Linked DNA regions of Homo sapiens. The protein of the gene in region 2 purifies or fractionates together with the protein of the main gene of each other region. This does not show direct contact. Each region holds a gene or a part of one and is shown on either strand. Other genes may lie near its edges. The genes, in order: ZC3HAV1 and ZNF777.

Region 1 (12,783 bases), about 10 Mb from region 2:
TTGTTTTGTTTTGTTTTTTTAAGTTTAAGGCAAAACCAAGAATGGATGGTGGAGAGTCACTTCAGGAGACCATAAAGGCTTGACAAAGCTGACTTGTGGAGAGGGGAGAAGGCTGACAGGTAGGACCAGTGGGCATGGGCAGGGCCTTACCAAGGCCACAAATTCGTAGTGGCATTGATCCAAACAGTGCTGCAATTCTCCTAAAAGCTCTCAAGGTGTAAGAACAGAATTTGATTGATTCACTTTTAGGTTTTGCCAGTGGGTGAGACTTAAGGTCAAAGGTTCTAGATGATTGAGGTATGAATTGAAAGAGTGATCAGGGGGCTGGGTGCAGTGGCTCATGCCTGTAATCCCGCCACTTTGGGAGGCTGAGGCAGGTGGATCACCTGAGGTCGGGGATTCAAAACCAGCCTTAGCAAAGTGGTGAAACCCTGTCTCTACCCAAAATTACAAAAATTAGCCAGGTGTGGTGGCACACGCCTGTAATCCTAGCACTTTGGAAGGCCGAGGCAGGAGGATCACTTGAGGTCAGGAGTTCGAGACCAGCCTGGCCAACATATTGAAACCCCATCTCTACTAAAAATTAGCCAGGATGGCAGTGGGTACCTGTAATCTCAGCTACTCAGGAGGCTCAGGTGGGAGAATCACTTGAACCTGGGAAGCGGAGGCTGCAGTGAGTTGAGATCACACCACTGCACTCCAGCCTAGGAGACAGAGTGAGGCGCCGTTTCAAAAAAAAAAAAAAGAAGAAAAGAAAGAGTGGTCAGGGGCTGAACAATGGGCTGGAGACTAGGTAAGGGAGGAGTGAAGACAGCAAGGGGCTATATGTGAGCAGAGAAAGACGACGTACGAAATGTAGGAGGGCCAGAGAGCTCAAAAGCAGGCTGGGGTCAGAGGTAGAATATAGAGGTTTGGGATTTCAGAAACAGCAGTTCTAGGCCATTTGCAGTGATTCGTGCCTGTAATCCCAGCACTTTGGGAGGCTGAGGCAGGAGGATCAGTTGAGGTCAGGAATTCAAGACCAGCCTGGCCAACATGTCGAAACCCAATCTCTACTAAAAATTAGCCGAGCGTGGTGGCAGGCGCCTGTAATCTCAGCTACTTGGGTGGCTGAGGCAGGAGAATCGCTCGAACCCTGGAGGCAGAGGTTGCAGTGAGCTGAGATCACGCCATTGCTCTCCAGCCTGGGCGGCAGAGCGAGACTCCATCTCAAAAAAAAAAAAAGCAGTTCTAGAGTAATTCTGACTGATGACAGTGGGGTGATGGATATTGGTACCCCGAATAGTGAGGACAGTGAAGACAGGTGTTAATGACATCTAAGGCTAGGGGTGTTGCATGGGTTGACCACAGTGAACACTGAAGGAAAAGGGAGGATTTTGAGTGGAGAGGAAGACTATGAGGCAGAGTGTGGAGAAGACTCCAAGAGCAAATGCAGGAGTTAATGGGGGAAGGGTGGGGAGGTGAGAGGGAAGAGGTAGAGACTGTTCCTACAGATACACACTTAACCTGCAGACTCTGCACCTGAACTTCCGGGTTTAGAATCTTGGTTCTCTTACTCAGTAGCCGTGACACTGCACAGCTTATCTGACTCCTCAGCAGAGGTATAGATCCTGGATTCAGAGTGTGTGACACTTGGATCTGGGAATAAATAAGACCATTCATGGGGAAGTGCATAGAGGGGTAAAAAGGAAAGATCCCAGAGCAGACTGTTTATTGAAGCATGTGGATTTTTCAGGAAGAAGAGGGTGACATTAGATGCCGGGCAGGTTCACAAGGGAATGAAAAAGAGAAAACAGGAGGTTGAGGTTGGGGGTGGTATTTTAGGATTGGAGCTTTTAAGGCTTAAGCACTTCCTGGAACGTTCTGATGTCTCCTGCCACTCTGATTCTGAAGCTCATTCTCAAGCTTATGGTCACTCAGGCACACATCTGTAGCACGAGCTTTGGAGCAAGTCACTCTGGGGACATGCACTGATATCACTGTTATAAATTCATCCGCTCTGGTCTTAACCTTCTAAATGAAACCTGCCTGTTATCCCCTGAACTCTTTCCAAGACATGTCTCAGAACATGGCCCCATGGCCCCAGACACACATGCTTAGCACTCAACTAAGTATTGCGTTTCATGGCAGTTCTCTTTATAGTAGCTAAGGTATGAGGGTATGAGTGGAAAGTGGTTGTTATTTAGCTTCATTTCTTTTTTCTTTTTTTTTTTCTTTTTGAGACAGAGTCTTGCTCTGTCACCCAGGCTGGAGTGCAGTGGCGCAGTCTTGACTCACTGCAGCCTCCACCTACCCGGTTCAAGCGATTCTCCTGCCTCAGCCTCCCAAGTACCTGGGACTACAGGTGTGTACCACCATGCCCAGCTAATTTTTGTCTTTTTAGTAGAGACGGGGTTTCACCATGTTGGCCAGGATGGTCTCGATCTCTTGACCTCGTGATCCACCCGCCTCAGCCTCCCAAAGTGCTGGGATTACAGGCGTGAGCCACTGCACCCGGCCATAGCTTCATTTCTACCAAATGCTGGACTGAGGAGTCCACCGGAAACTAGCGCACTATGACAACGTAAACAAACTCATAAAAAAAATAAATAAAAAAACTCCAGGATCTGCTCATGCTTGGTTTGATAGCATTTTTGTGTGTTTCAATCCAGGTGCTTTGACAGCAATGACTTTGCTACACCTTGCTTTATTTATATTGAGGTCCAAGTCAAATGGTAGTTTTACCTTCACTTTATCAAATCTCTGCTGCCATAGAACTTGCTCTCCCTCTCCATTTCCCTCCTCCCTGCTCCCTCTCCACTGAAAGCTTTGTGATTAAAAAAGATAATGAGGCCGGGTGAGATGCTCACACCTGTAATCCCAGCACTTTGGGAGGCCAAGGCAGGTGTATCACCTTAGGTCAGGAATTCAAGACCAGCCTGGCCAACATGGTGAAACCCCACCTATACTAAAAATACAAAAACTAGCCGGGTATGGTGGCGGGCGCCTATAATCCCAGCTACTCAGGAGGCTGAGGCAGGAGAATTGCTTGAACTCAGGAGGCAGAGGTTGCATCGAGCTGAGATTGCGCCACTGCACTCCAGCCTGGGTGACAGAGTGAGACTCCATCTCAAAAAAAAAAAAAAAAAAAAGAGAAGAAAATAATGAGTAGAGAAGGGCTTTTGGAGAAGGAATGGCTGATAGGGTAATTCTGCTTATCACCATTTATATTTTTAACTTTTGTGTCTCAGCCTGGCCCTGTTCACACCCCCGAGACTAAAGGAAGAAAGGTGTGTTAGCAGCTTTCAACCCTTCCCTCTCTAAATCCCCAGACAAAAGATGTGGGGGCCATCACCACCACTGTGCCTTGCCCAGGTGACTTGGTCATCGAACCCTGGAATGATAAAGCTGGAAGGGGCAAAACACATCATCTCTCTCCCATTGAATAACTGGTGTCTGCAGTTGATGATGTTTTGGGAGATACCTAGAAATAGATCAAATAAAGGCAGTAGAACCAAATTAATTACTTCTTTTTATTAGACAGTTCAAATTAAGCTTGAAGAACAGGAAGCAATACAACTCAACTATTGAAATACAAATAGTTGAGCTTAATTTATTCAACAAAATTTACCCAATATATCAGTGTACAAAGCATGCTGCTGGGCTGGGCATCAGGCGTGGCACAGCAAACAAGACAGACTGACTCAACCCTCAGGGGGCTTACATTCTAATGCAGAAAGCAGATAATTTCAGTTTGGATACATAATACAAATTATCAAAGCAAGGCGCAAAGTATTTTAAAAATAAGGGGTTTGGGAGGCCAAGATCTGACCTATTCTGTAGAAGGACTCCTTAGGAAAGTAACAGTTGAGCCAATCTAAGGATGCTAGATATTCAGTAGGTCAGTGGAAAAAATCAGTGGTTCTCACTGTGGTCAGTGGGTTATTGGTGGTTTCATAATAACTGGGGACTACTCCCAGCACTGAGTGGATGCAGCCAGGGAGAACGATGTCCTGCAGTGTGTGGGTTAGTGCCACACAACGAAGAATTATTCTGTACCCTGTACGACTGTCTAATGTCCTGCTGGACATTTAGGTAGGACCTACAGCTTGTCCGAGAGAGTAACTCATTTGTTTTCTCTGAGACAATCTGTAATTTGTCTTGTCCTATTATCCTTAAGTAAGGTAATTTCGCTCTTTCTTTTCCCATATACAGATTATGTACATAGTCTGTTTTGTCTTTACCCTAACACTGGTTTTCATTCTAGTGTCCCCCACCCGTCTAGTTTCATTTTCCTGTACTTGTTTACAGGAAGTAGCCTCTAATCGGCTCTTAAATCCAAACCTACTCATTACAAGGAAGAGTAAACATCTGTCTGTTTCAAACAGCGTAGTCATGCCTGAGCGTTTACATAATGAAATTCATCTTCTTTTCATTATAAATTTCTTCTTTTCTATTTCTCCTTAATAAGAGAGTTAGGGCATTAAATTGATTTTTTTAAGAAATTCATGTGTGTAAGTAGATTGTATTATCTATGAGTCATTTCAGGTCAGCAAAGAGAATGTTACAAAATATCTGCTCTGAAAAAGGTGAATAGATCTGATAGGGTTTGTGGTTGTCACCGTGACTGGGCGTGGGGGTGGGGGCGCTACTAGCATTTAGTATGTGAGAGCCAAGTATGCAGAACATCTTGCAATACATTGGACAGTTCCTCACAATAAGAAATTACTCTGCACCCTATACGAATTTTGAATGTCTCACTAGACATTCATGTATGACCTATAGCTCGTCTGCAAGAATATATCCTCATTTTCTCCACTTCGACAACTGTACATTTTCTTGCATAGTATCTTTATTTCAATAAAGGTTATTTCGTTCTTTCTCTTATATACAAATAAGTATTGTCATATGCAAAGAAGTTATTGTATCCCTAGTTTTTATTCTAATGCCCACTGATATCCCTGCTTTTACATTTTCCCACATATGATCTGATCTCCTACCTTCTAAGTTCAAATTGATGCATTATAAATAGTTGTAAGCATCTGACTACTTCATTAGGTCTTCAGTTACAGCTGTGCCCAAGTTAGGTACCTTTTATTTCCTCTTTATGTTCATATTAGTTTTATTTAATTTTTAATTTATTTCTAAAATTGTGTGTAGGTGGAGCATATTACCTCTGAATTGGATTTGGAGGATAATAAAGAAGATGTATTTCTATTTGTCGTTTAGAAAAAAAAAGGCAGAAATGCCCATTGAAAACCACTGAACTAGCTAAAAATGGGAACCACAAAACTGAAAGGAAGCCAGAGTGGCTTGCGCAGAAGAAACTAAATGATAGAGGGGTAGGGGAGGGAGAGATCACATGGGGCCATGACAGCGGTTTTGAACTTTATCCTGAAGACTTGATGTGTGTTTTGAATGTGCATTACTAAGTAAATTTTAAAAAATATAACCTTCTTGCTCTGAAGAAAACACAGCAAACAACTTAGAAGGGAACAGAGATATTTAAGAGGTAAAACTAGACTTAGAAACTGCTTAGATGTTTATCAGGAGGGAGAGGAAGGAGTCAAAGATGACTTCCAGATTTCTGCTTGAGCCAATGGGTAGATGGTGATGCTTTTCACTTACATACAGATCCTGAGAGAGGAACAGGTTCATGTGAGGGAGGTAGATGGAGAGTTCCACTTTGGACATATTGAATCAAAGATGCCTGTGAAATATCCAGCTAGTGGTGTCTAATGGGCTGTTGGAAAGAGTTGGACAAACTGCACCCCTACAATGTGAGGGTCAAGTTCAGAAAATGAACACTCCAAAACGAAAGTTACCATGAAAGAAATAAGTCAATGAGAATAAGCATTTGTAGTAACTCTCCCAGAAAATAACTCTACTCTAAAAAAACTATTTTTTTTTTTTTTTTTTTTTTTTTTTTTTACCGGTGGAGCTGTTTAAGCCAAGGAGTTGTGGAGATCTCTGTGATGATCCAAAATCTGACTAATATAAAATCAACTCTGATGCTAATTAAATCTGACTTATAACTTGTCTGCTAAAAGAAATTATAACAGGAAACTTTGGTGACTGGTAAGGAATGTTGAAAAGGGAAAATCAGAAGGAAAAACCTGGTTCATAAGAAGGAAGGAAATATTGGTCCAAGCACGTCAAGGGCTCTAAGTAAAAACCGATGGCACTACAATTCCACATAATCCATTACATTTGGAAAAAGAAGCTCCTGGTAGACACAGGGCCTCTTTGGGATATTGTTCTTTGTTCTGATTCTGTGCTCACCAGGAAACAAATTTCATCTCCGTAGGGGGCCCGTCCTTCAGTAGGAATGGCCCTGCTCCTAGGTTCTTGGCTCACTTGCCAAGACTACAATAGCACTCGCGTTTATCAGTTATGCTTGTGTGAAGCTGGTTATTGCAATTCATTGTTCTCAAAATACTTTCATGAAAAGCCTGACCTGAGAAAAAGCCTTCTCTGTAATCATATTAATTAGAACATAAATGTCTACTTTGCCATAATTATACAAAGAGCCCAAATGGGCAATTAACTCCAGTTGGTTGCTTCTCTCTGAGCCTTACTTGCCAGCTCTTATTACCGCATTCCAGAGAGAGTCAACCTGGATGGAGTTTGTCCCCTAAATAAATGTAGCGATAAAGAAAAGGGTGCTCCAAATCAGTTTCATCAGAATGATAAGGTACAGTACTGCAGCCATGTCTGCAATAGCACTTCAATTTTACTTTTTTTTCCCCTAGCATGTCCTTAAGCATTTTCTCCCCAGCTTTTCACAATCTTTCTTCTAAGGCTGTAATGTCTTACATCCTTAATAGGCATGATTAGATTTCTCCCAAATTTTCCAAATTAACTTTCTTTCAATGTAACCAAAACAAAACCATGGCATACAGTAAACTAAAAGGGTAGACAGGAGAGAAAGGTTGCTGCAATTACAGAAAATTTAGAAATCAGCCTTTACCAGTTACATCTGAGACAAGGTAAACTTTCCAACACATTGGAATCATCAGAAGGGCTTTAAAAAATACAACTGCCAGCCGGGCATGGTGGCTCATACCTGTAATCCTAGCACTTTGGGAGGCCAAGGCGGGCAGATTGCCTGAGCTCAGGAGTTTGAGACCAGCCTGGGCAACACAGTGAAACCCTGTCTCTACTAAAAAATACAAAAAATTAGCTGGGCGCGGCAGTGTGTGCCTGTAGTTCCAGCTACTCGGGAGGCTGAGGCAGGAGAATTGCTTGAACCCGGGAGGCAGAGGTTGCAGTGAGCCGAGATCGCGCCACTGCACTCCAGCCTGGACGATGGAGTGAGATTCAGTCTCAAAAAAAAAAAAAAAAAAAAAAATACAACTGCCTGGCGCTGACGCCCAGAAATGATTTCATTGGCATGGGGTGCAACCTGGGCATCAGAATTTGTTTAAAACCTCCCAGATGATTCTAATATGTAGCAAAATTTGGGGACCACTGATCTAAGACATTAGATAACTGAGCAGGAAAATATAAAACTTTAACTCCTGTCTGCGGCAATTTAGTTCTGTAAAGGAACAGAATGGTTATGGCATCCTTCTGACGCTGTATTCATCGGTTCTAACTAATCACGCAGGCTTTGTCTTCAGTATATTCAATCACATATTGTGGGTAAACCTGATCTTTCTGAAAGATGACAAAAACGGAGGGATTCGATCTGGTATCCACACAGCTGTCGAACTGTGGAGGAGGGCTCGTGTACGTTATATTTCCTTCAGTAAACTTTCCAACCAGAACTTGGGCTACAAACATAACGACGTTTTTGGCATCATACGGGCAATTTTTGTGGGAATAGATGGCATCTTTTGCAAAGTAAATTCCTAGAAAGAATCAGAAAGAAAAGTTAAGAAATATTATAAAAGAAGGTATACAGTTTATAAGATTTGTTATATACAGTCAGATGGGTGTGGACTAAGCATATGTCAATAATACCTTACTGATATTTATAAACTTTCCTTTGCACTTAAAAACATGTTAATGATGCAGGCGAACTTAAATACAGTATATAACCCTATAGAAATGACTGAGGAATATTTGCTACAGTGCAGAGCTCATGCTGATAGTGTGAGCCATTGGGTGCAATGACCAAATGACAATGTCACAGTGGCCCAATTCATGCAATTCACCCAGTGTGAGCTGAATGAGCAAACTTGGAACTGATGAGTCAGTTGATGCTTCGTCCTCAACTCTAAAACAACCTCAGATAACGATTGCTGCTTCCATACACAGCAGACCAACAATTTCCTGCCAAGTTAAAATTTTTATTTTTATCATTGTCAAGTGCTACTCTGGGCAGGTGCAGTGGCTCATGTCTGTAATCCCAGCATTATGGGAGGTTGAGGCGGGTGGATCACATGAGCCCAGGAATTTGAGACCAGCCTGGGCAACATGGGGAGACTCCATCTCTACAAAAAATTTAAAAATTAGCCGGGCATGGTGGCGTGCACTTGTAATCTCAGCTACTCAGGAAGCTGAGGCAGGATTGATTGAGCCCAGGAAGTTGAGGCTGCAGTAAGCTAGGATCATACCACTGCACTCCAGCCTGGGCAACAGAGTGAGATTCTGTATCAAAAAATACTAATAATATTTTCTAAGAAAGCTACTCTGTCGTTTTAAAGACCATGAGTAGATATTGCAACTCCTATTTCCATGCAAGAATCAATAAGTAAAATGAATTGTTTTACTTGTGGTAACAAATGTTTAATATACTTCCCATCTACTTTGTTTTTGTTCTTTTTATCATTTTATAGTTAGATGTTTGAATTCCAGAAACATTGCTTATCCTGAATAGGTCAGATACTAGATATTCTGTGCAAATGATGTTCTACTATATTTAAAGTAAAATATGGAAGTCTACCTATACTGACCTACGACGTCCAATCCCACTCCCCTTCCCAAAACAGTTTATGGCTGGCGGGAATTCTTTCACACCTGTTTCTATGCATTCACATACATATATGTGCATATGGTGGTTTATGGTGGTTTACTTGTTCATAAATAGGATCATAATATATGAACTGTTCTACAACTTTTTTTTCCACTTTAGTCCTAGAAATCTTGCTATGTCAGTACATCCAACTCTCTCTCTCTCCTTTTTTTTTTTTTTTTTTCGTTGTTGTTGTTGTTGCTGCTGTTTTTGAGACAGGGTCTCTGTCACCCAGGCTGGGGTGCAGTGGTGCAATCTTGGCTCACTGCAGCCTTGATATCCTGGGCTCAAGCAATCTTCCCACCTCAGCCTCCCATTCTAATCGGTGCGAGGCAACAGCTCATTGTGGTTTTAATTTGCGTTTGCTTGATGATTAGCGATGTTGAGCATTTTTTCATGAACTCATTGGCCATTTGTATTTCTTCTTTTGAGAAATGTCTATTCAAGTCTTTTGCCCATTTTTGAAACTTTTATTTGCATGTATTTTACGCTGAATTTATTCCCGTGCTGTAAGTTTTTGCTTCTTCAGTATCTTCTAGGATAGCTTTTTCTTCTGTGCACCTCCTCTTCTGGTTTAGGAACACGGTGTGCTTCTTCAGGAAGATTGTCTCTATGTGGCAGGGGGAGCTTAGGCATGAGTTAATCCAACCATGAGCTCTGGAAGTCTGGTGGCACATCTTGGGTGCTTTGTGCGCCTGAATATCCTCGACGACCAGAGAATCTACAGCTCAACCCTTACGTTCAGCATTACTCTCTGCATTTTTAAGTGTGTACAGCAAGAATTCAATTCTTTTGGGGTCACAAACTGCGTGCCCAGCCCCACTGTTTGGTCTGGGCACTCCTACCAACTCCACCCTCGTAACGTTGGAATGGTACACATTGTTTCCATACAGTGACATCTTTCAGACATTTGCTGGCTTTTCATATAGGCGTACTCTTGATGGCCTGGGCAGTTTCATGGGTGTCCTTAGAGTGAACATGAAGATTTGAACCTCTTTATTTGCATGATTTCATGGAGTTTTCTGGGTCAAGTGAATAGTGAACCATTTTCACAGATCACCGCAGGCCACTTATGGGAACAGCTTGCACATTTTAAAATTGAGTTATTTGTTCTCTTGCTGTTGAATTGTTTAAGTTCCTTACATATTTTGGATATTAATCCCATATCAGATGTATGGCTTGCAAATATTTTCTCCCACTCTGTGGGTTTGTCTGTTCACTTTGTTAATTGTTTCCTTTACTGTGGAGAAGCTTTTTAGTTTGATGCTATCTCATTTGTCCATTTTTGTTTTTGTTGCATCAGTTTTTTTATATCACACTTATATAATCTGGAATCTATATTTTCTTTTTTTAAAATTCCCTTTATTGTGTTAAGAAAGTTCATTTCTATTCCTACATTTCTGAGTGCTTTATTTTTTTCTTTTTTGAGACAGAGTTTTCCTCTGTCACTGAGGCTGGAGTGCAGTGGCAGGATCTCAGCTCACTGCAGCCTCCCCTTCTTGTGATCAATCAACTCTCATGCCTCAGCCTCTCGAGTAGCTAGGACTACAGGCATGTGCCACCACGCCCAGCTAACTTTGTATTTTTATTAGAGATGGGGGGGTTTCACCATGTTGGTCAGGCTGGTCTCAAACTCCTGACCTCAGGTGATTCACTCACCTCGGCCTCCCAAAGTGCTGGGATTACAGGAATGAGCCACAGTGCCTAGCCTAACATTTCATTTTTTAGGATAAATATTTGTTTGAATTCTAACATAGGATAGACCTGTAAGAAACTGATGGGTTTTAATTTCACCTATCATATGTCACTTAAGATGGTTACTACATTTCCCATTTCCTCCAAACACTTCTAGGTAAGTTTCACTGATACATTTAAACTTAATAAACTTATGAAATCTCATCAATAAATTCATTCCCCAGCTTAAAACCTTTCATTAGTTTCCCATGCGCTTACAGTCAAGTTTAGCTCTTTATGGTCATACCTTGTTCCATTTCTCCCTTCTCCGCCATGTGGTGACTCTACAAGGCAGGGGAATCCTACTCTATCTCTATCCTTGGGAACACCTCTCTAGCTGGGTTAGTTGTCCACAGGACCTGTTCCTTTTTTTCTTTTTTCTTTTTTTTTTTTTTGAGACGGAGTCTCGGCTGGTGTGCAATGGCATGATCTCAGCTCACCGCAACCTCTGCCTCCCGGGTTCAAGCGATTATCCTGCCTCAGCCTCCCAAGTAGCTGGGATTACAGGCATGGGCCACTGCACCCAGCTAATTTTTGTATTTTTAGTAGAAACGGGGTTTCACCATGTTGACCAGGCTGGTCTTGAACTCCTGACCTCAAGTGATCTGCCTGTCTCGGTCTCCCAAAGTGCTGGGATTACAGGCGAAGCTGCCGCGCCTGACCTGGATCTGTTATTTTTCTCTATAGCAGCCCAACATTTGCAATCATTTAATTTTTTTTTTTTTTTTTTTGAGACAAAATGTTGCTCTGTCGCCCAGGCTAGAGTACAGTGGCACAATCACAGCTCACTGCAGCCTCAAACTTCTGGGCTCAAGCAATTCTCCCACCTCACCCTGCTGAGTAGATGGGACTACAGGCATGTGCCATCATGCCCAGGTAATTAAAAAAATTTGTTTGTAATTAAAACAAAAAATTAGATAAGGTCTCGCCATGTTGCCCAAGCTGGTCTCCAACTCCTGGGCTCAAGTGATCCTCCCACCTCAGCCTCCCAAAGTACAGGAATTACAGGTCTAAGCTACCATGCCTGGCCACAGTCATTTAATTAATTATGTAAGATAATTATGCAAAATGTGTTTGGGGCCATGTCTAACTTGTTCACCACTGTGTACCCACCATCTAGTGTACAGAAGACACTCAAAAATATTTGCTGACTGGCTGATTGACTTCTTGCCTTTTGGGGCAAGAATTGAATTTAATCCTAGTTGTATGAGTTGAACTCACTTTGAATCTGTGATAAACTATTACTTATTTCCTAAAGATGACTGATTCTTAGTTTTTTTTTTGTTTTTTTAATTTTCTAGTTTTTATTTATGAAGTTAATTCCCTCAAACATTAAGCTAAGTGTGAAGTGCAGTTTTTAGTAAGCTTGCTTATTAGTTAAAAATGGACAATAAACATTTACATTCATAAATATTTCTCTTTTTTTCTTTTTTTTTCATTTTATTGTTATTTTACTTTAAGTTTTAGGGTACATGTGCACAACGTGCAGGTTTGTTACATATGTGTACCTGCGCCATGTTGGTGTGCTGCACCCATTAACTCGTCACGTAGCATTAGGTATATCTCCTAATGCTATCCCTCCCCCCACCCCCCTCCCCTCTGGTTTGTTTGTTTTTAAGAGTTGCATGCAGGCCAGGCGCAGTGGCTCACACCTGTAATCCCAGCACTTTGGGAGGCCAAGGCAGGCAGATCCCCTGAGGTCAGGAGTTCTAGACCAGCCTGACCAACATGGAGAAACCCAGTCTCTACTGAAAATACAAAATTAGCTGGGCGTGGTGGCACATGCCTGTAATCCCAGCTACTTGAGAGGCTGAGGCAGGAGAATCACTTGAACCAAGGAGGTGAAGGTTGCAGTGAACCGAGATCGAGCCATTGCACTCCAGCCTGGGCAATAAAAGCGAAACTCTGTCTCCAAAAAAAAAAAAAAAAAAAAAAAGAGTTGCATGCATCCAGGAGCAGTGGCTCATGCCTGAAATCCCAGCACTTTGGCAGGCCAAGGTAGGCGGATTATTTGAGCTCAGGAGTTGAGACCAGCCTTGGCAACATGGCGAAACCCTGTCTCTATAAAAAATACAACAAAAAAAAATTAGCTGGATGTGGTGGCACACACC
Region 2 (11,983 bases):
GTTTGAGACCAACCTGGGCAACATAGGGAGACCTCGTCTCTACAAAAACTTTAAAAATTAGCTGGGCATGGTAGCACTTGCCTGTAGACCCAGCTACTCTAGAGGCTGAGGTGGCAGGTGGTTTGAGCCAGGAGGTTGAGGCTGCAGTGAGCCATGATCTCACCACTGTACTCCAGCCTACGCAACAGAGCAAGGCCTCATCTCTTAAAAAACAAAACAAAACAGTCACTTCCTGCCCATCTCCATCTTACTATAAAGCATTTCTCAGAGGCATAAAGCCCCCAGGTCACCAAACAGAAAACATTCAGAATTTTAAGATACATGTCCTGCAGCGTGTCACTCTGGGGCCTGGATGGCAAGTTCTCTTGCAGCTTAGGTTGTTAGCAATATTTTACCTTTAACAAAATTGAAAGAACCTAATCATGTTGTGAGCTAATAGGTCATTAGAAACAGTTTTTGATGATCATGTTGACCATGTGATCTTCGTGGCATATAATTCAGAAGTTCAGAATTGAGTGACAGTTCCATAACAAAGCTTCTTCCAGCCCATCTACATATTTATGTAAATGAGGTTTCCCAATGTAAATGAGGTTTCATATATAAAAATGAAAAAGACTAAAATTGATTCTGAACTGTACATTCTACAATAAGAATATTGATTTCTAGATAAGTAAACTAATTAGAAAAAATTTCTATTCATCCTTATAAGAGATACATTTCCCAAAGTTTCTTTATTTTCTATCTTGGATAATTATTTATCATTCTATAGTGATAATCACTAAGGATAACTTAAGCCAGAAAAAAAATGAACACTTAGAGACCTGTGGTTATTAGAAATGAAAGCAAAATTAAACTTTCAACTTACATACACATTTTTGTGGCAGAGTGGCAGAGGAAGTGATCAGTAAAAGGCTTCTAAACATACAAATATGTTCTATTAGGATAAAATTCTGTGGGCAAAGTGGGAATAGAAATAGAAGTTCAAGGTGAAAAGGAATGATATAAAAATTCCAGCTATCAAAGAAGAATTTGTTCATGTATTTTTAAGTGAATAATGGTGGGTTTAAAATTGCCGGGGTTCTTAGATTCCATTGGTGACATTAAAGGGTGATGGAAGAGTTTATTTCAAAGTATCAATATTTACAATACTCCAGAAATTACATCTTTTGCAGTTACTGATGCATTTTATATGTTTATTCAAAAAGGTGCAAAGGAGTACATAGTTTTAAAAATCATTTTAAGGTGTAAGCAAGCAAAATATTTTAAGTAGTTTGTGAAGTCAGGGAAGTTTTCCTGATGCTAGAGTCGTGGTCATGTTTGTGGAGGGATCATAACAATTTAGCGCAGAGACAAGGATTGAAGACAGATGGGAAAAGGCACACAACTAATGGAGCAAAACTCCAGGGAGAAAGAAATGGGCAGGGCTAAGGAAACAAGCAGAGGAGTTCAGTGACAGGAGGAGGGAAGAGAGACATTACTTTCCCTGAGATTGGAGAGAAAAGGGAGGTAAAGATGGTGACTTTGAGCCAGTGTAGGAAGTAGGGGATGGAGGTATGGATGACTTTTTCTTTTCCTTTTAATAGAGAATAGGACACAGACATCTTTGGAGAGAGTGGGAGAGTTCCACAGTTCTGAGGGAATCAAAGGTCTTCATTTAAGGCTGTGGCGGGGGGGTAAATGAGAACATTAGAGCTGCTTTATATTCCATCCACTTCCAAACCAGTTGAGTTGGTGAATCAGAGAGGCATTAAAGGAGTGCCGCGCATCCGAAGGAATCCAGCTTAGGTCATCTAGCACCCATTTTCAGCCTGATGAGTTTGTCTGATTTCTTAGTAAGGGAATGAATGGATTTGGCAGAGGAGCATGAAGAGCCTCAGGAGGGCAGGACTGAGGCTGCTTGGTTCATTTATCTCCTGGCTTCTTTTCTCTTTTTCTCACAGCACTTGTCACCTTCTAACATACAAAGTAATTTATTTATTGTGTCTACCACCTTATGTAAGGTCTATGTTTTTTTCACTGGATATATCAAAAGCCGTTAGACCACATGACATGTAGTTGGTGCTCAGTGTCTGCTAGTAAACATTCGATGAATGAATGAATATGTGTGTACATGACATATTCTATTGTCATTGCAGTAAACATTTGTTCACCATAGCAAAACTCTGGGAACAAAACGTGAATGTTCTTCTGTTAGGGAAAGAATGAATAAGCCACGGTATTATCCTGACCATGGAATATATACAGCATTTTTAACAGTGTATTAGCACTGTAGAAATTGATTTGAAGCCAGGTGTGGTGGCTCATGCCTGTAATTCCAGCACTTTGGGAGGCTGAGGTGGGCAGATCACTTGAGGCCAGGAGTTCGAGACCAGCCTGGCCAACATAGTGAAACCCCATCGCTACTAAAAATACAAAAAATTCACGCCTGTAATCCCAGCACTTTGGGAGGCTGAGGCGGGCGGATCACGAGGTCAGGAGATCAAGACCAGCCTGGCTAACACGGTGAAACCCCGTCTCTACTAAAAATACAAAAAATTAGCCGGGTGTGGTGGCGGGTGCCTGTAATCCCAGCTGCTCGGGAGGCTGAGGCAGGAGAATCGCTTGAAGTTGGGAGGCGGAGCTTGCAGTGAACCGAGACCACACCATTGCACTCCAGCCTGGGCAACAGAGCGAGACTCCGTCTAAAAAAAAAAGAAATTGGTTTGAAGGGATTTCTACAAGATATTTGAGTAGAGGAACACAGAAGAGGCCAATAGTGACAAAAAAAAAAAAAAAAGAAAAAGAAACAAACATATAAATGTGTATGTGTTGTTTAGAATAACAACATAAGCACAGAGAAAAGTCCTGGTAAATTATAGGAGTTACCTGGGAAGTCATAGCGGTGAAATGGGAAGTAAGGGAAGGGGAAGGCAGATTAGATGGAAAAAAATACTGCACTAAAAACCAAAAATGTTATAATCCCATTTATGTAAAATGACACCTATGTATGTAATGATACATTTGAAATTAATCTACAGACCTATAGGCAAGTTTAGAAACAAATTTCAGGGCAGTGCGTAACAGGATGCTATTTAACTAAAAACAAACCCAAATGCCCATGGTGTACATGCATACGTGCTTGGGAATGTGAGTGTTTTTTGGACACCTCAGGGTATGGGGCCGAAGGGTGGGAGTGGTCAGGAGGTAGCCTTTTCTTCATCGACCTGATTGTGAGTGAGCAGATGAGAGAGAAACTGTGTTAACTGTACCGGTTGGCTGGTCTGACTGAGAAAGGGAATGAGCATCTCTTTAAAATAAACCCTGGCTGGGCGCAGTGACTCATTCATGCCTGTCATCCCAGCACTTTGGGAGGCTGAGATGGGAGGATCATGTAAGCCCAGGAGTTCAAGGCTGCAGTGAGCTATGATCACACCACAGCACTCGAGCCTGGGTGACAGAGTGAGACCTTTCTCTATTGAAAAAATAAGAGTAAAAATAAACCCTGACAATGCTGAATATTTTTTTTTAATTATGGAGCTCATGGAAAACAAACTTTGCATCTATTTTAACTTGACTACAGTTTGTATTGGTATTCAAAGCTACAAGGTGTCCAGAAAATTCTGTGTCTACTCATTTCCAACTCAATATTACATTTCTTCAGGGTCTCTAAGATAAGACTTATTGAGATGTAAATTGTAGGGCTGCAGAAACCTGGGCAGTTGGCATGAACATTCTGGGTTCTTTTCTCCTCCTCACCCCTGCCCACCCTCTCTCAGCGCACGATGGGATCGTGATTAAGATCGAGGTACAGACCAACGACGAGGGCTCAGAAAGTTTGGAGACACCTGAGCCCCTGATGGGACAGGTGGAAGAGCACGGCTTCCAGGACTCAGAGCTGGGTGACCCCTGTGGGGAACAGCCAGACCTGGACATGCAGGAGCCAGAGAACACGCTGGAGGAGTCCACGGAAGGCTCCAGCGAGTTCAGCGAACTGAAGCAGATGCTGGTGCAGCAGAGGAACTGCACGGGTGAGTGCTGGGCGGGGACGGCCGGGGAAGGGTTGCCATGAGGCCTCCCAGAGGGCCCCTGCCCCCTGGGAAAGCTGTGGTTCCTTCAGAGAGGTAGCTGGACACTGATGGGGCAACAGGTGGGAAAGAATTACCAAGCACGGCCTCGAGTATAGGCTCCGTGACGCGGGACTTGTAAGAATCCGTCTCCAACCTAGGAAAGAAGTGGTTACATCTAAAGACTGGTTCAGGCAAAGGGATCTCAGAGCTCACCTATCCCACCCCTCATTTTACAGACAGAGGTTAAATAGATGGGGCAAGGCCACACAGAGAGTGGCAAAGCTAGAACTCTCCCAACGTGTCCTTGATCATCTCATATCACCCTAGAAGCCTCAACTACCTTGAAGATTTCAGCCCTGGAGAGCATGGTTTTCAAATAACAATAGCACCGGCATTCTGTGGTCGAACCTAGTCTTCATTTTTGTTTAATTATAAAACTTTATCACCATGCTGCTCACTCTTGCTCCTTCTGAGTTCAAGAACAGTAAGGCACTGGGGCTCACGGTGGCCTGATCCCAGGACATCTTTCGTGATGGATTTTCTGATGCTGAGCCATCCTGGCAGGCCCGGGAAAAGCCCTACTTGATCATCATGATGTATTTTTTGAATTCACTATTGGACTTAGGTAATAAATATTTTACTCAAGTTAGACAACTGTATTCATAAATGAAATGAACCTTTTCTTGAATTATTCTCATCTAATTTTGGAAACAGTATTATACTGGACATATCAGATGAACTGGGCAGCTTTTGCTGTTGTTCTGTATTCTGAAAAAAAAATAGGAATTGAGTGTGTTCCTTGAAAAATTGGTAGAACCCACATGGACTTTTGTTTTTGTCTGGATGTTTCGTTTATGTGTGAGTCATTCACCATTACGTTTGTATTGTATTTTCATATTTAGAAATAGATCCACATCCATTTCTGTTTTTAAAAGTATTATATTGATGTAAAGTGTTTAAAAATTATCTGTAGATAATTCCTCTATAATTTGCCTTTTTGCACTTAATAAAATACCCATGGTATTTTATTAATGACCATCTCGTTGGTCAAAAGATATGGATCTAGGCCCAGGGCAGTGACTCACACCTGTAATCCCAGCACTTTGGGAAGCAAAAGCAGGAGGATTGCTTGAGCCCAGGAGTTCATGGCCAGCCCAGGCAACATAGGAAGACCCCATCTCTACAAAAAAATTAAAAATTAGCCGGGAATGGTGGCGCATGCCTGTAGTCTCAGCTCCTTGGGAGGCTGAGGTGGGAGGATTGGTTGAAGCTGAGAGGCTGAGGCTGCAGTGAGCCATGATTGTATCACTGCACTCCAGCCTGGGTGACAGAGCAAGACACTGTCTCAAAAATATGTACATATATGGATCTACCACCTTATTTTTAAGTAACTCCATGGTATTTCAGAAGTGTTTTTGACATACCATGCTGTCTTTCATAACAGAATAGTGAAAAGACATAAGGTAAATTCTGAGTATATGCTAAATTGGGACCATCATCGTATAAACTCTATTGCCTTTTGAGCAGTCCCCATTAATTGTAGTAGAACTTTAGAAAACTACTAAACAGTAGTTTGTGGAGTTTTGAGTCTTGAGTTTTAGGGCCAAATGTTTGGCGTTTACCATTCCATGAAGAAAAAAGCACCTTCGGCCAGGAGCGGTGGCTCATGCCTATAATCCCAGCAGTTTGGGAAGCTGGGGCAGGCGGATCGGATCACTTGAGGTTAGGAGTTCGAGAGCAGCCTGTCCAATGTGGTGAAACCCCATCTCTACTAAAAGTATAAAAATTAGCTGGGCATGGTAGCAGGCACCTGTAATCCCAGCTACTCGGGAGGCTGAGGCACGAGAATCGCTTGAACCCAGGAGGCAGAGGTTGCAGTCAACCGAGATCGTGCCACTGCACTCCAGCCTGAGCGATAGAGCCAGACTCAGTCTCAAAAAATAAATTAAAAGAAAAAAAGAAATAAGCACCTTTGATGCTCAAGGAGAGTTTAGTGCTTCTCAGGATCTATTTTCCCCTTTGCCTTTCAGACATACTCAGTATTTTCAGGATAAACACCAGGGCAACTAGTTACCACACTCTGCAGCTGCCTGCTCCTTGATCTTTTAGGCATCACGCTCCAAGGATGTTCTGGGTCGCTTCTTGCTGAGAATCCTAACACTACTGAGGCAGCCTTGACTCAGCACACCTGTGTCCTAATTTTACCACTGTAGTTCACTGGCTGTAGAGGAGGCCAAGGAAGTGCTAAGGACAGGGAGTCACTAGCAACCTTACAAGACGTTGGCTGGGTCACAAACATTGCTAGCTTCAGTCCATGTTACTTGAGGAGGTAGACCAGGTGGGTCCCAACCTGCAAACTCTAGAAAGGCCTAGGACTTCATTTTCTATTTGGAAACATCACTTGATATCTCTGGGCTTGGATGACCCATCTGTAAAATGGGGAGAATTCTTGCTTGACTCGTCCTATAATAAGATACTGTGCTCATGAAAAAAAAAGGACAGGTATGAGTACTCTGAAAAGGTCTTGTTGGTTTTTAATTATTCTGCAAACACAGAATTTTTGTGTCTTCTGTCACAGATGGGTCCAGAGAAGTGACTTTCTTATGTCACACAAAGCTGGTGACTAAAAATAGAACTCACCAGTTAGTGCCAAATAAGTACAAGGCACTTGAGAAAACTCAAACAGGAGTCGGGAGCCACTTCTTTTCTCTAAAACTTACATTATCATAAAGGACCAGGCTAGAGAGTTGAGGGGGCATCCCCGGGTGGGGCATGCACTGCCTGCACCTGATCCAGATTCAAGGGTGGTCGAGTCTGACTGTGCCGGTGCATCTTCCACCCATGAGAGGCTGCAAAAGGCTGGGTTCCTGATCCCTGGGGTGGGCACCAGTGAGTACTGTGGGCTCCAAGGAGGGGTGGAGTGCTGTAGGTTTTGATCACCAAGGCAGACATGGAGAGGAGAGGGAAATTTCTGGAGGAAGGTGAGGAAAGGCACCAAGAGGAGAAATCTCCAAGTGGATTAAGAAAGAAGTGGGCCGGTCTGAGCAGAGTTCAGGCAGAGATGTCCTCAGAGGGGCAAAGACTGAGAACCTTAGGAGTGGAGACCCTTTGGTACAGCTGGTAGAAACCCAACCTTTAAGTAGCCTAATGGAAAAAGGGGTGTGTATCGCTCATATAATTAGAGAATCGTGAGTATTCCAGCATCAGGCATGGCTGGATCCAGGTGTTCCCACATCGGCTCTGTGTACTGGTTTCCTTCTTTCCTGCTGGGTCCGGCTGTACCAGCAGTTTCGCATCATAACCAACAGGAAGCGATTTCCCCTGCGGTCCTCTGTATAAAATCCAAAGAGGACTCTTTTTAGCCCCTTTTAAGTCTGGACTCATTCCTGAAGCAAACAGCAAGGCCAGTCTGGGTTACGCGTCTACCCCGTTGGGGGAGGGGAGCGGACCAGGGGACGCAATGAGGGGACTTTTCCCAAAAGAAGGAATTTGGGCCAATAATGCAATGTTTTGGTGAGGGTGAAGCAGTGCTGTACCTCCATCCAGGTAGGTTAGGGGCGCCAGGCAGCAGCTAACGACTTTCTCTCTCTGTCCCTGGAGCAGAGGGGATCGTGATCAAGACAGAGGAACAAGACGAGGAGGAAGAAGAGGAGGAGGAGGATGAGCTGCCGCAGCACTTGCAATCCCTTGGGCAGCTGTCCGGGAGATATGAGGCCAGTATGTACCAGACCCCGCTGCCCGGGGAGATGTCCCCCGAGGGCGAGGAGAGCCCCCCGCCCCTGCAGCTAGGAAACCCCGCAGTGAAAAGGCTGGCGCCCTCCGTGCACGGTGAGCGGCACCTGAGCGAGAACCGCGGGGCCTCGAGCCAGCAGCAGCGGAACCGGCGCGGCGAGCGGCCCTTCACATGCATGGAGTGCGGCAAGAGCTTCCGCCTGAAGATCAACCTCATCATCCACCAGCGCAACCACATCAAGGAGGGGCCCTACGAGTGCGCCGAATGCGAGATCAGCTTCCGGCACAAGCAACAGCTCACGCTGCACCAGCGCATCCACCGCGTGCGCGGAGGCTGCGTCTCACCCGAACGCGGGCCCACGTTCAACCCCAAGCACGCGCTCAAGCCGCGTCCCAAGTCACCCAGCTCTGGTAGCGGCGGCGGTGGCCCTAAGCCCTACAAGTGCCCCGAGTGCGACAGCAGCTTCAGCCACAAGTCCAGCCTGACCAAACACCAGATCACGCACACGGGTGAGCGGCCCTACACGTGCCCCGAGTGCAAGAAGAGCTTCCGCCTGCACATCAGCTTGGTGATCCATCAGCGCGTGCACGCGGGCAAGCATGAGGTCTCCTTCATCTGCAGCCTGTGCGGCAAGAGCTTCAGCCGCCCCTCGCACCTGCTGCGCCACCAGCGGACTCACACAGGCGAGCGGCCCTTCAAGTGCCCCGAGTGCGAGAAGAGCTTCAGCGAGAAGTCCAAGCTCACCAACCACTGCCGCGTGCACTCGCGCGAGCGGCCGCACGCCTGCCCCGAGTGCGGCAAGAGCTTCATCCGCAAGCACCACCTCCTGGAACACCGGCGCATCCACACAGGCGAGCGGCCCTACCACTGCGCCGAGTGCGGCAAGCGCTTCACGCAGAAGCATCACCTGCTGGAGCACCAGCGCGCGCACACGGGCGAGCGGCCCTACCCCTGCACGCACTGCGCCAAGTGCTTCCGCTACAAGCAGTCGCTCAAGTACCACCTGCGGACCCACACGGGCGAGTGAGCGCGCGCCCCGCCGCCGCCGCCCGGCCAGGTGCGCGGGCCGTGCCCCCCCTCGGACACCGCCAGGCCCGAGCCCAGCGGGCGGGGGCGGGGCGCCCCCCAGCCCCTTTGCCGTGAGCTCCCCCTCTCCTCTCGTCCCTCCTCCCAAGGACATGGGGGCAGTGAGACCAGGTCCCTTGCTGCCGCGTTTCCCCGGGGGCCCCAGGGGGGAGGGCGCGGACCTGGGGAACCCTTTCGGGCTGTTAATTTCCTTGACAATAAAATGGATGAAACCAATCAGCACGGGGGGCGTGATTTGGCCGCCGGCCACTCAGAGGGGCGGTGTAGGGCCCATCTAGTTGGGGATAGAACTTTATAATTACCTTTTGGATACTGTGGTTCTATTTGATAATAATAGAGTAATTTTTAAAAGAAGAGCGTTTCCTGTTTGCCGTTTTTGTTTGGTTTGAAGGGGAGGGATTGAGAAGGCCGGAGGGACATACGCTAGTGTCAGTTGACAGGTTCTGTTGGGACCCTTTTTTGTGTTCCTTCTCCATTTGGGTGGTGAGGGAGACGCTGATCCCGCCGGTTCTGAAATGGAGGAGGAGAGGCAGGACTGACGTCTAAGGGACCACGGGAACCCCAGACCATCGCGTCTGCCCTGGAGTCCATGAGGTTGCTGGGAGCTCAGGACTGAATAGGTCCCAGTTGACTAGCGTGGTCAAGGAGAGTGACGGTCAGGTTTGGAATGAGCTGGAAAGAAGGTCCTGTAGCAAAAGCTGGGCGCTGCCTTCAGTGCCCAGGCGTTCCTGCGTAGCTTGAAATGCAGCTGGCTGAGGAGTAGGGTGGCGGGAGGGAAGCCTAGGGAAGAGGTGCAGAGGCCCCTGGTGCCAGTCTTTGCGGAAGCCACAAAAGGCACCAGTCAGAACATTTTTTATTTGAATGTTGCACCAAAGCTACTCTGGACTTGCTGAACGCACTGACGAACCCTGGTTTCTCTAGGTATTCATTCATTTCCCATCTCCCTCCAGCTCTCTCTTATAGAAAGAGAAACTGCAGGAATATTTATTACGTTGCCCACAGAGCGATTTACTCTGCTGATGGGTTTGGCAGTGGCCCAGAGAGAATTCAGGCCATTCGAAGGGATAATTCATGGAGGCTAGCAGAGTGCACAGCTCAGCCTCGCACACTGGGGAAGCTGGGCTGAAAGCAGAGAGACTGGCCTGAGAGGAGAGCACTGCTGAAGCCAGGCCTGTCAAGTTGTGACAAGATACTTGAAGGGGGTTCAAAAAAGGGGATTTGGAGGAAGAAGGTGATACACTCTTGACTTTCAGGAGACCATAGAGATCATCAACTCCCTCTGCTTTGTATAAAGAGTTTGTAAGCTAAGCACAGAAAGGGGAAGTGATTGATAGCACAAGATCTCACATGTGAAGCTTCTCCATTTAGACTGAATTTCTAAGTCGATGATAGGACATATAGGGATGGTGGCCAGAGGAGGGAGCAGAGGTCTGGGCTGGTGTAAAGGACTGAGGGGCAGTTTCCACCAAGACCTGAAGCATCAGCTGCGAGGCTGGTGCAGATACGTGGGCAGGTAGTTCCGTAGTGTGCAGCCAGCTTCACCAGTTGCCAGGCAGAGGGGGCCTGCAGGAGGACAGCTTCCCCCAGGAGGTGGAATCTGAGCTGGGCCTGCGGGATGGAGAGGATTTCCATACATGAGAAAAATGAGGAAAGCTTTCTTGGTGGGGGTGGTCATAAAAGGAAAAGTGTGGAGAGTAGGCTGCATGTAAGATCAGGATGTAAGCAGTGATGGATTAAACCTCAGCTGGATGAAAGGGCCTGTCTAGGAAAAACAGGGCCAAATGTTGGTTTGGAGTAGACTAGGGGTGCAGAAAGGATCTAAGACTTCAAGGCTGCAGACTTTGAATTGGATCTTGTAGGAAAAACCATTGAAGATTGCTGAGTAGGAGAGAGAGATGATACAAATAGCTATCCAGGGACTGAATCTGGTAGAAGGCAAAGAAATCTAACAGTCAGGTGTGGGAGAACCAGCTCAGTTCCACGGACGGGTTGCAGATAACAGAACCCGTGGGTGGAGGTTGAAGGGATGGCAGGGGAAATGGTTCTTTTGAACGTGAGGATATTTGAAGTCTCAAAGAGTTGTTAGTGGAGGAATTTGGGGAGGTATTTGGTAGAGGGCTGTTGCTGCCCTAAATTTTTACTAGCTCTGGAATTGGAGGACCAAAGAGTGCTGGAAATATCCACCCTGAGTGGAGACGGAGGTGCTGTGGGGTAGAATCCATGTGGGAGACTCAGAGAGGAACTTCATTTGTTACATGAAGTTAGCAGGACATTATGGGGTCAAATGAGAATGGTGCTTGAGAGGCTTTCTTTTTCTAGGAAATCTGGGTGGTTTTTGTTTCGTTTTGCTTGTTTTCTGAGACAGGGTCTTGCACTGTCACCTAGGCTGGCATGTGGTGGCACCATCATGGCTCACTCTGACCTCAACCTCTTAGGCTCAAGCAGTCCTCCTGCCTCAGCCTCTCGAGTAGCTGGGGGACTACAGGTGTGCACCACCACACCCAGCTAATTTTTTTTTTAACTTTTTTGGAGATGGGGGAGTCTTTCTGTGTTGCCCAGGCTGGTCTCAAAACTCCTGGCCTTAAGCCATCTTCCCACCTCAGCCTCCCAAAGTGCTGGGATTACAGGTATGAGCCATAGCTCCCATCTGAAATTTGTTTTTTAAAAGGATTAAACCAAATATAGTCAAAGATTGGTATTTCTTTTTCTTTTAACTGACAATTTATTGCACCAACTAGAACAGCCTGGTTCGTGCATCCTTACGTCTCTGTCTATTGGGATACCATTTAAAGTCTTTCAGAACACGTCATAGTATGTCAAGATTGGTTCATCTTACACGTAGCTGGGCTGCCATGACTTCCCTGACTTCTACCTCCCCTTCCTTGGCTCTGACTCCCTCCTCATGCCTCTTCCTAAGTGCCCAGCACCCTGTGCCCCCCATCGTCTCTCCCCTTGTTCTGACTTCTTGCCACCATCTTGAATCTCACTTTCCATTTGCCCTAATCTCTGCTATTGGTTCCTAAAGTGTAGATAGCCTTTGGTGTCAAAAAGACGTGGCTTTAAACTTCATAGTTGTATGGCCTTGAACAAGTTAATTAACAGAACATCAATTTCCTCA

The links.
Region 1: the proteins of ZNF777 (region 2) and ZC3HAV1 purify together in Homo sapiens (affinity purification with mass spectrometry; 2 studies listed by BioGRID and IntAct, with this or other methods). This does not show direct contact.

What each region holds. Positions count from the first base shown.
Region 1 is NC_000007.14:139,040,022-139,052,804, forward strand, and holds the end of ZC3HAV1 (zinc finger CCCH-type antiviral protein 1), read right to left. Parts: intron 7,833-12,783; coding exon 7,573-7,832; 3' UTR 3,494-7,572; downstream 1-3,493.
Region 2 is NC_000007.14:149,428,599-149,440,581, reverse strand, and holds the end of ZNF777 (zinc finger protein 777), read left to right. Parts: intron 1-3,755; coding exon 3,756-4,007; intron 4,008-7,649; coding exon 7,650-8,806; 3' UTR 8,807-9,219; downstream 9,220-11,983. UniProt on the Homo sapiens protein: May be involved in transcriptional repression. Inhibits cell proliferation through CDKN1A/p21 induction by down-regulation of NIBAN1/FAM129A at low cell density.